Regions from separate parts of the Homo sapiens genome. Here region 1 is linked to region 2. The links come from fine-mapping of genetic effects on gene expression. A gene starts in region 2. The other region holds a variant in brackets. All regions are shown on one strand. Distances are between the middles of the regions.

Region 1 (5,492 bases), 160 kb after region 2:
TGGGATTGCCACAGAAAAGCCAGCAGAAGCAACAGACCTCTAACAGTGAAACAGCCAAATAATCCAACATGAACATATTTTGAAGAGAAATATCTTTGATTTTATGATGCAATTAAGTCAGGGAGACAGATGTGCAAACTAGTTAAATATACAGGTTTTAGAATTAGATCTGAGTTTAAATCCTAGCTCTGCCCTTAATAGCTGTGTGACAGGAAAGGTCTTTCATCTCTCTGAGCCTCAGCACCCTCATCTGCCAAATGAGGAAAATACCTACCCTAATAGGTTGTACAAGGATTAAACGAGAAAATACATGTAACACTTTTGTGCAAAAAAAAAAAGGGAAATGTGGTTATTATTAACGAAAAAGTGGGACTGTGTATACTCAAGCCACTGCTTCTATTCAATTTCTAAGAAATAATAATGAGTAGTACCTAAACACTTTGGAAGTTTTCTGGGCACCAAGTATAAAACTATGTGGAAAGTTTTTCTATCCTACCAACGTTCACGTATACAACTTTCACTATGAAGACGTGATAAAGCTAAATTATACCTTAGAAGGAAACAAAGACTTTAAAACATGTTTGTTTTCATGTTAATTACAGTAGAAGCTAATAGAGAAATAAAGTTCAAATACTTCTGGAATTATTTTTAGGGAGACTTTTGTTTAAAAACAAGTTAAAGAACAATTGAAGGTGACAGGGAATCAAATTTGGACTTATGGGAAAAAGGGGAACTCAACTACTCAAAGATGTTCCATAACAGAGCAGATTTCCTTATATGACAACGAGCTGCTTCTGATCAGATGTTGAGCAAGTCAAGGTTAAAAGTCTACTTCAATGAGATATTCCACAAAAGACCCTCAATTCAGGAACTCTGCAGGAAGCAGAATATTGGATAAAACTCTTGAACACTACAACACACAACCAACTCTCTGGTGTCCACAGTAGGGCAGAATTTCCCTCTAATAATCATCCCTAATTAGAGAAGGGTCTCCAAATTCAGGTAAGAGACAAATTTGCCACTCAATTCAAATATGACAGAAGCTGAATTCACGAATCTCATGATCCTTAAGCATGTTGTTTTGCTCTCTCAACTCTTTTTTCTCCCTTGATGCCCTGCTTTTATCAGCTATCCAATCTAATTCCATGAATAGTTACTGGCTTCTAGAAATCTATCCCAAAGAAACAAACTCAGATGAAATTTATGCACCAAGATTTTGTACTCCAGTATCATTTTAATACCCAAAATGTCCTCCAATGGGAGAATGATTAAACTATATTTATATTTACAAAAAGAAATGTTATCCAGCTGTTTACACTTTTTTTTTTTTTTTTTTTGAGACGGAGTCTCGCTCTGTAGCCCAGGCTGAAGTGCAGTGGCGCCATCTTGGCTCACTGCAAGCTCCGCCTCCCGGGTTCACGCCATTCTCCTGCCTCAGCCTCCTGAGTAGCTGGGACTACAGGCGCCCACCACCAAGCCCAGCTAATTTTTTTGTATTTTTTTTTTTTAGTAGAGACAGGGTTTCACCATGTTAACCAGGATGGTCTCGATCTTCTGACCTCGTGATCCGCCCGCCTTGGCCTCCCAAAGTGCTGGGATTACAGGCGTGAACCACCGCTCCTGGCCTTAGATGATGTTTTCAAACAATATCCAATGACATGGGAAATGCCACAATAGAATTTTAAGTAAAATTGTGATATAAAATGACAAATTTTAATTATAAAGTAAATGTATACTTTACATAGGTCTACACTAGAAGGAAAAATATAGCAAGTTATTAACAATGGCTATGTCTAGGTAGAATTTTTAATTTTCTTTTTTGTCATTTTGTTTTCCAAGTTCCTTAAAATAATCATATATTCATTTCGTGATCAGAAAAAAAATTATTAAAAAAATAAATATGGCAAAAAAGCTATGTTATAGTTATCTTGGATTTGTAACTCAGAAATCAAAACAATTCTTTTAAAAGGAAGAAGCATGGTATAAGAAAATTAAGTTTGCATCTGACCCTATGTTTGAGATGGTTGCTAAGCACGATGTTGTCTTTAAATTAATCAATAAGCAAGGAACAGCTGGGACAATATCCGGTTTTACTGAGGATGTGGAACAACAGGAACTCTAATATATAGCTAGTAAGGCGATAAAAGAGCATAACTACTTTGAAGAGTAAATTGACTGTATCTAGTAAAGCTGAAAATACATGTGCCCTACTAGACAGCAATTTGTTCCTAGTTACATACCCTAGAGAAAACTCTCATACATGTGCAAAAGGAGACATGTACAAAGATGTCCACTGCAAAACTGTTTAATAGTAAAACAACTGGAAACAACTCAAATATTCACTAATAAGTCAATGGATACACTGTGAAATATTCATTTGATGGAATACTACGCAGCAGTGAAAATAAGTGAGACATATATCAACATGGATAAATCTCAAAATTATAAGGAAAAGAAAAAAGAAAGTTACACAAGTAGCTGAAGGATACATATAGAACACAACTTATATAAAGTCAAAACAAGTGAAAGAATATTCTACACCGCTTAGATATACAAAAACATGTAGGAAAAAGACAAGCCACGAAGAAAACACATGGGCATGATGAATGCCAAAATCAGATCAATAATTCCCTGTGGAGTGGGAGGAGGAGGGAATATCAGGGAAGGATATAAAGGATGGGGAGGGGGCGTTGTTTATTTGAAACGTGTATTTTTCTTCCTGCAGGGAAAGAGATCTGAAGCAAACATGGCAAAATATTAAAATATGACAAATTTGATGAATACACAGGTGTTTGCTATTTTTTTTTTTTTTT[C/TC]TGTATGCTGACATACTGCAAATGAAAAAGAAATTCTAGGTAGCAGCTGATAATCTCTATGGAGGACAAGGCATCCTATCCACAGCAGTTTCTTAAACCCTGCTGGGTCTAAGGCCCCTCTGCAAAGCTGATGGAATCTATGGCTCCACTTCCCATGGGGTTTATTATGCTACCACCACTCCACCCTTGGTCACCTCAGGAGACATTCAGGAAAACCCATGCCCACTCTTTTGTCATGTGGTTGACCGAGGTAATTTCAACTCTTGCTAAGAGTTACCAAGGCCAGACAATTAGACAGGGAGAGAGCGTGAAACATTGGCTGCTCAGAGAAATAGCCTGTGATAAAAACAAGATTTTCACTGAATCAAGGCTGCCAGGGTAACAACTAGTGAAAAAGCTAAAAATCCAGTGGTACACATGCAACTGAATGTTTTCAAACCAACTTAAAAGGTAGGGGAAGCATTACGGAAAACATTCTTCAACTTAATTCAGCCTTGGTGCGAAGCCAAGGTTCTAAGTAGTGACTGACAACAAAGATTAGTGGGATTTGTTCATACTTCTCAAAATTTTCCTCTATTTGCACATCTTATTTAATAACATTTAATTTGGTTAATTTTTAGCAAACATTTGGCTAATGTCTATGCTTAGCTTTTCCAATAAAGCACTGTGTTATTTTCAGAAAGTCCAGATGAGTGGAAAACAATGACACTTTGAGTTACTGACTCAGTTAATAAAACCTAAGGGAAAATGGCTGCTGAGACTTAGAAGTCATGACGGAAACAACTGGTGACAGTACACCTAAATTACTGGCTAAGCACCTAGAAGGACACAGTCTTTGGCAGGACAGGCTTAAAAGATTGAAACCTACAAAGGGACATTAAATACTATTAATTCAACATGTATGTGAAGGTCTTTAACTGCTGTAATTATCTCAGAGGGTTTTTCTTTTAGAAGTTCTAGATCTGTGGTACTCAGAATTGTCCCCAAAATGCCAACATTGTAAGCTTAACAATGCCATGTAAAATCTCCTGTTTCTTTGTTATGGTCTTTCATTATCTCCATTGTATTCCATCTTTATATTCCAATCCAAATCTTTTATTCATGCCTGCCTCTTCCCTGTCCTCTCTTATTTCCCCTCTACCTTACCTGCAACCCTGACCTCCACCCCAGGCTGCCTCTTGAAAATGCAGAGCAACCACCCAAAGAGCTGGAGAGTGAGTGTTGATTTGGGGAACAATAGTGGGCTACGTAAGAAACCCTTTTGCAATTCACCTTTTTTTTTCCTTCCCTCCATCCAATTTTTCCAAACTTTTTCCCCCAATACTGTTGTTTTTCCCTGAAATTCACTCTGAGGAGTGAATAGGAGTGATAGGTTGAATGAAACCTATGCTACAGTATAAACACACAACTTCTTAAAACTTTCCAAGATCTTTATGCTAAGGAACAACAAAGAAAACTGTGCTGCTTAGTAATACTGTAAAACACATACTGTTTTAGCCCCCCTGAAACACACAGAGGTAATCTGGAAGAAGGAAGGCCTCTCCTGGCCATCGCAGAGACTGGGGCACCACTGGCAATTCAGTGGGCAGGGACAAAAATTGCCAATACACGGCAGTGACACACAATAAAGGCTGGCCCACCCAAGATGCCAGTAGCACCCCAACCGTCTCTCCCACTCTTATTATGATACACTGGACCACAGACACTCATGTAGCCAGATAACTCCAACTAATTTCAATAAATAGTTGGCTAATCTTGACATTTTCTGCCTTGTAGGAAAAGGTAAAATCAGCTATCGATTGGGCTGCCTGAATTCCCAATATCGCACAGATATCTGGGAAGGGGGAGGCAGGTGGTGGCACAAGGTCTGCACAGTATTGCCTCCTAGTGTTTGGAAATTCTCATTAAAATGACCATATTTTGAGTTTGATAGCACTGTATTCCAGAGACTTCTTCACTCATCCTTGATGCAGCATTATATTGAGCCAAAAGAGCTACAGGGGCCATTCTTCCCTGAAAATGAGTCAAGATGGTTACACAACCCTCCGCAGGGATCTGCACACAACGGCCCTCTGAGGGTGTGGGGGAGGACATGGTAAACATCTCTCCCCTTCATCAGCTCATGTTCTGACTCAGATTTTTCCTGACAAAACAAACATGGCTTTGATTACATATTAATTATTTTTGTAGCAAGCAGCTCATTCTCACATTCCTTCTCCTGCTCATTTTCCCTCCATAATTCTTTACCCTTTGCCCACAATCCCTCCTCCCAGTCATGTTGTACTATTTGTATGGAAAAAAAAAATTTTAAAGAGTTGCTTCTTGCCAAGTGTGACATCAACTCATTCTTATTTAGTGATGTCCCGCAAGAACTTGCTCTCCCAAAACGTTTGCTCAGTTTTGAGGCAACAAGATTACTCACTGCATTGTTTTCCCTGTCACTTGTTTTTGATGCATTAGTGCATCTTCTGAAACAGATGACATAACACCTAATTTCTATGACCCAAAGCGCTATACACATGTATACAAGCATCTTTTCAGACAGCTTCAGGAAGACAAAGCATTGCTCCTAACTTACTAAGAAGGAAAAAATAACACTATAACAAGATAACGATAATTTTAACCTCCCTGAAAAAGCTCTCTCTGCTTTCGGTAACAAGAAACAGCTATATGATAGTA
Region 2 (5,217 bases):
ATGGGATGGCGGCCGGGCAGAGACGCTCCTCACTTCCAGATGGGGCAGCCAGGCAGAGGGGCTCCTCACGTCCCAGACGATGGGCAGCCAGGCAGAGACGCTCCTCACTTCCCAGATGGGGTGGCGGCCGGGCAGAGGCTGCACTCTCAGCACTTTGGGAGGCCAAGGCAGGCGGCTGGGAGGTGGAGGTTGTAGCGAGCCGAGATCACGCCACTGCACTCCAGCCTGGGCACCATTGAGCACTGAGTGAACCAGACTCAGTCTGCAATCCCGGCACCTCAGGAGGCCGAGGCTGGCGGATCACTCACGGTTAGGAGCTGGAGACCAGCCCGGCCAACACAGCGAAACCCCGTCTCCACCAAAAAAATACGAAAACCAGTCAGGCGTGGCGGTGCGTGCCTGCAATCGCAGGCACTCAGCAGGCTAAGGCAGGAGAATCAGGCAGGGAGGTTGCAGTGAGCCGAGATGGCAGCAGTATAGTCCAGCTTCGGCTCGGCATCAGAGGGAGATCGTGGAAAGAGAGGGAGCGGGAGCGGGAGCGGGAGAGGGAGAGGGCTGTTTCCACATATTTATTGTTAGTATGTAGAAAACCTTTCTTAGTAAAAGAAAGAAATGTACTCTTCGGTGAAGTAAACTTGTTTAGTGGTTTCCCCTTCACCTGCTGGGCAGGTAACAATCTATTTATTCTAACATTCAAGTACCTCCACAATGTGCCTCTGTATCTCTTAAATTTAACCTCATACCTAATTGCTAAATACCGATTTCTACTGCTACTGGGTTTACTCTTCTGTCACTTGAATACACCTTACTCATTATTCATTCCACCTCCATGTCTTGGCTCATTGCCATTTGCCCTCTGGAATCTTCCCTCCACTGGCTTCTTCACTGCAAACTAAATCTGAACTGTCCTTCAAGGATAAGGTCAAAACTCTTTATAAGGTGCCTTCCCTGATAATCCCAGCCTACATTGCTCCTTTTCTCCCCTGATGTTTTTTTTTGTTTGTTTGTTTTTTTTTTTTTTTTTGAGATGGAGTCTCACTCTGTTGCCAGGCTGGAGTCTGGAGTGCAGTGGTGCGATCTCGGCTCATTGCAACCTCCACCTCCCGGGTTCAAGTGATTCTTCTGCCTCAGCCTCCTGAGTAGCTGGGACTACAGGCGCCCACCACCACGCCTGGCTAATTTTTGTATTTTTAGTAGAGACGGGGTTTCACCATGTTGGCCAGGATGGTCTCGATCTCTTGACCTCATGATCCACCCGCCTCGGGCCTCCCAAAGTGCTGGGATTATAGGCTTAAGCCACCACGCCCGGCCCCCTGACTCTTTTAACCAATATTGTACATCACTCAATCATTGATTTCGTTTTTAATGAGCTTTAATATACGTCTTGTTTCCAGAAATAGATGAAATACCCTGAGAGACTTCTATGATAGCTATGATGGCACCACATCATACATTACACAAACTTAATTGTGTAACTGAGGAAAGGGGAGAAACGTTTCAAGCCATGTCAGTTAAAGCAAGGTTACTGGAACTTTGGCATGCAAAGGGGATACCATTAATTCTCATGAATCTTTCCTCCAGGCAAGATCCATGCTCTGTACCACTAGTAAAAGGACTATCTTCTTCTTCCTTCCTAAAAATCCCAACACCTCCAACAAAGGTCTACAGTTAGATTTTTAGGGGTTTCCTGGTAGAGCACAAATAATCCCAAGGAAGCTGCAGTAACACCTCCTGGCCACCAGAGGACAGGGAGCAGTGGGAGAGATTTGCTTCCCCTAGCAAAGTCTTCAAGAGGCCAGAGGCACAGGCTCAAAGTTGCTTCTCCATCTGTGGCCTTCAGGCTTTACCTACTACTGCCAGAGGTGCTAGGGTGCCTCCCATCTTCAAATGGGCTTTTTTTTTCCCTCCTATAAAAGATGGGCCAGAAGTTCCCAGGGCCATACCCCGCAACACTAACCTTCAATGATTACCAATCATAAGGAATGCCTTTAGTTGCAGGACTTAAAGGCAGAAAAGTAGTAACAGGGGTGTATTATCTTTCGAACCCACCCAAACCTGCTTATCAGTTCTTTTGCTAGTGGAAAAACGTGCTTTAGGCAGGGTGCACATGGATATCCCACAGCAAACAGTGCCTTTAGGGTCTAGTGTCCCAATCCGGCACATTGTAAATGGAATATTTGAAGAGTTAGATTATTCCTACACATAAATTCTGGCTCATGGAGCAGTCCACTCGCAGGGTGCTTTTCCGTCATTAATCACATCTTTGTTATGTGATATCCACGTGAGTACTTCTCAGTAGAAGCAGCTTCATGCTCAAATGCTCAAAGAACATTGGAATAAAGCTCCGATTGTCCTATTCAGTGATTCCAAGTCCTGGTTTGTCACCACCTCAGGTCTCTCGTTTTCCAAAGTGCATAATGTCATCTCAAAACAGACATTTTAATGAATTCAAATAATAAAATGCACGAGGTATGTGGAGTTAAATCAACAAGGGTTTTGTACCTCTCAAGAGGCGGTTAACCCCTGGTCTTATTTAAAGATGTTTCTGCGCTGCCTCCTGTAGAAAACATTTTTAAAGAAAATGTAGGCTGCTTATCCTTGTATTTGTAAATATAAGCAAAGTAAAGTAATGTAGGAACATTTATGTGGGGGCTTTCAACCATAAACATATAGATAGCTGAATGCCTGACAACAGTAGTGTGATTTTTCTTGAAGTACCTGTAACTTCTCTCCTGAGAGATGGCAGAGCCTTGCCTTTTGCATTCGCCAGACTTTTTACAGAGCGAGTGTAATTCTCTCAAATCAGTGTTTGCGTTTTTTGACGTTGGTGAGGCAGCTGGAAACAGCTCAAGGAGGAGGGAAAGGTTCTGCGTCTGGGTGAGGGAGAAAACCCTCCGATACCTGTTGGGGCGCAGCACTGGAGGCGGACACCCCGGCCCGGGGGTCGGGGCCGCGAGCCCGGGGGTAGGGGGCGGGCGCGCGGGCGCGGGAGGAGGAGGAGGAGGAGGGAGAGGTGGGGGAGGAGGCCGCGGGGCCGCCTCCTCCGGCAGCTCCGGCTCCTCCCAGCGGCGCCCGCGGAACCTGCCTCAGAGTCGCCGGACTCTGGAAGGGAACATGACCTGACCCCTCCCCGAGCGGCCGGAACGAGGCGCGGAGCCGCGCTCCGGGCTCGGGCGGCCGCGGGATGGGCGAGCGCGCGGCCCCGCCCGGCGCCCACCGCCCTGCCCTCGCCTGTCTCCTCCTTTCCCCGGGGCTCCGCTGAGTTCATTCACTGGGATTGGTTTCAAGTGACGCCATCTCTTTATTTTTAAACCAATGACCTCATCCGCGCTTGAAGTTTCCTGACCAGCGACTCTTTCTCTTTCCCCCAACCCCCCACCCCACCCCCCCGCCTTTCCCCCTCTTTCTATGTATCAGTGTTTGGGGGGCTTTAATCAGTTTTTAAACGATTATTACCACCTCTCTCTCCCCCCCAACCCCCACTTTCACAACGCGGCCCCCCACCTTTACCTCCCTAAGTTCTTCATCTCTTTCGACATTTTTTTTGAAGGCTGATGGGGGGGAGGGTGGAAGAGAAAGAGTGAAGAAAAGTTGCGAGCGTCTCCTCTCTTCCTAAGCCTCCCGCCCCAACCCACCCCTCAGAGAAGGAGAAGATAATATACTGAAAAGAAGAGGAGGAGGAGAGCGACGGGACGGGACGCGAGCGGGAGCGCAGCCGCCCTCTCGGCTCCGCGGCGGCGCCTCGCAAGTCCGGGAGGCGAGGGGGGCCCGAGGGGAGACGCCGTGACAACTTTCGTTTCCCTCTGAGGGAATTGGGAGGTCGGCGGCCCCAAAAGTAAGTGGCCTTGGCGGGCCGCGCGGGGTGTGCGGGCGGGAGGGTGCGGGGCCCGGGGCGCCCTCCCGCCCGGCCGCATGGACGCTCCGCAGCGCGCCCCGACTCCCGGTGCCGGGCGCCGCGCTCCAGCCCCGCCGTCTCTGCCTTCCCGGGCGTACCGGCCACCCTTTCGGGAGGCGGCGTGGGGGCGACCGCGGCCGGGGGCCGCAGGAGCGTTTGAAGCGGGGGTGTAGGCCTGGCCGGAGGCTGGCCGGAGCGGGAAGGGGGCGTGCGGCCGGGCGCGGGGTCGCAGTGGGTGCGCTCCCGGCCGCTGCGCGGCGCTTGGACCGGGCCCCGCCGAGAGGAGCGGCCGCCGCGGGACGCGGCACCTTTGCGGGCGAAGCTGCTCACTTCCAGGCGCGACTGTTACACAACACGCCTGCCAAGTGGGGCCCTGGCCTGACTGTTCCCATTATCCCCAGTTCGCCTTTGGTGTAAGCAGCGAGGCCACCTGGGTGGTGACGGTGCTGCTTTCTTCAACCAACCAACCGAAAAAGCCCTCAATTTTCGGACAGGGGCTCGGGTCTTGGCGTTGGGGGGCCCGACGCCTAGTGACTTCTTTATTTACACTAGCTGCAAAACGTGAGAAATAAAAAAGCCCAGGGTCTGTGTATCACGTGTAGTTTCATGTAATGAAACACCACAGAGGGAAATATTTTCAGATGCTGGGTTTATTTCCTAAAGAATACCAATAATGAACCAGAGAAAAGGCAAGTAGATCTGAAAATGAATGGATACTGCAAAATCCTAAAGAAGTTTAGGAAACATCAACTGCAAGGATTCTTGGCGTTTTGAAGTCGTGGGTGTCTCAGATTGGAGAAAGCACACCTCTAACCAGCCTGTGATGAATAAGCTGGGGAGGAAAAAAACCTGTTGCATAATCTCATTTGCCGTGGGGTTTGCTGTGCCATCCCCTTGAACCAAAGGGAAGTGAGTTAAGATGCAGGGTTTTAAAACTCTCTGAAGTTTTTATTTACCCAGCGCTCTGGCTCCCACTTCTGTTTTAAAAGATTATAAGTAAATACTCTGCTCTTTCAAGTGAACCAAACCTATCAAACCTGTTTAGAAAATAAACCAGGTATGTTTCTTTCTCTTCTTTCTTTTCCGCCTCTGTGTGTGTGTGTGTGTGTGAAATTTACCATCCATGCAAAAGTTTAGGACTAGTGTTTGGGGAACTGAGACTGTCAGAAAAATGCCTCTTTATGCCACTCACCTTATGGGGCTGATGGAGAGTCCACGTAAAGGATAACCGTTTCCTCAAAGGATTTATGCTGTTTCACCTCCATCAAGAAAAGGGCTTTTTAAAGTTAAGGTAAAATTTTAAAAGAAAAGATTTCGTACCA

Evidence for each region. PIP is the estimated chance that this variant, and not a neighbour inherited with it, causes the effect.
Region 1: its variant is the best candidate, but not a certain one, in a credible set for the expression of DUSP16 in memory regulatory T cells (Schmiedel 2018, PIP 0.67).

Annotation. Positions count from the first base shown.
Region 1 is chr12:12,397,911-12,403,402 of GRCh38, reverse strand. The region is part of intron 2 of BORCS5 (BLOC-1 related complex subunit 5); the gene reads right to left. Among named protein-coding and RNA genes, the nearest start is that of BORCS5, 44 kb to the right of the region's middle. The variant C/TC (reference allele first, on the strand shown) is at 2,814.
Region 2 is chr12:12,560,735-12,565,951 of GRCh38, reverse strand. DUSP16 (dual specificity phosphatase 16) reads left to right here and starts at 3,089. Exons shown (of 7, transcript NM_030640.3): 1 at 3,089-3,835. RefSeq lists silencers at 2,780-3,289, 3,740-3,819, 3,850-3,969, 3,990-4,189 and an enhancer at 5,100-5,159.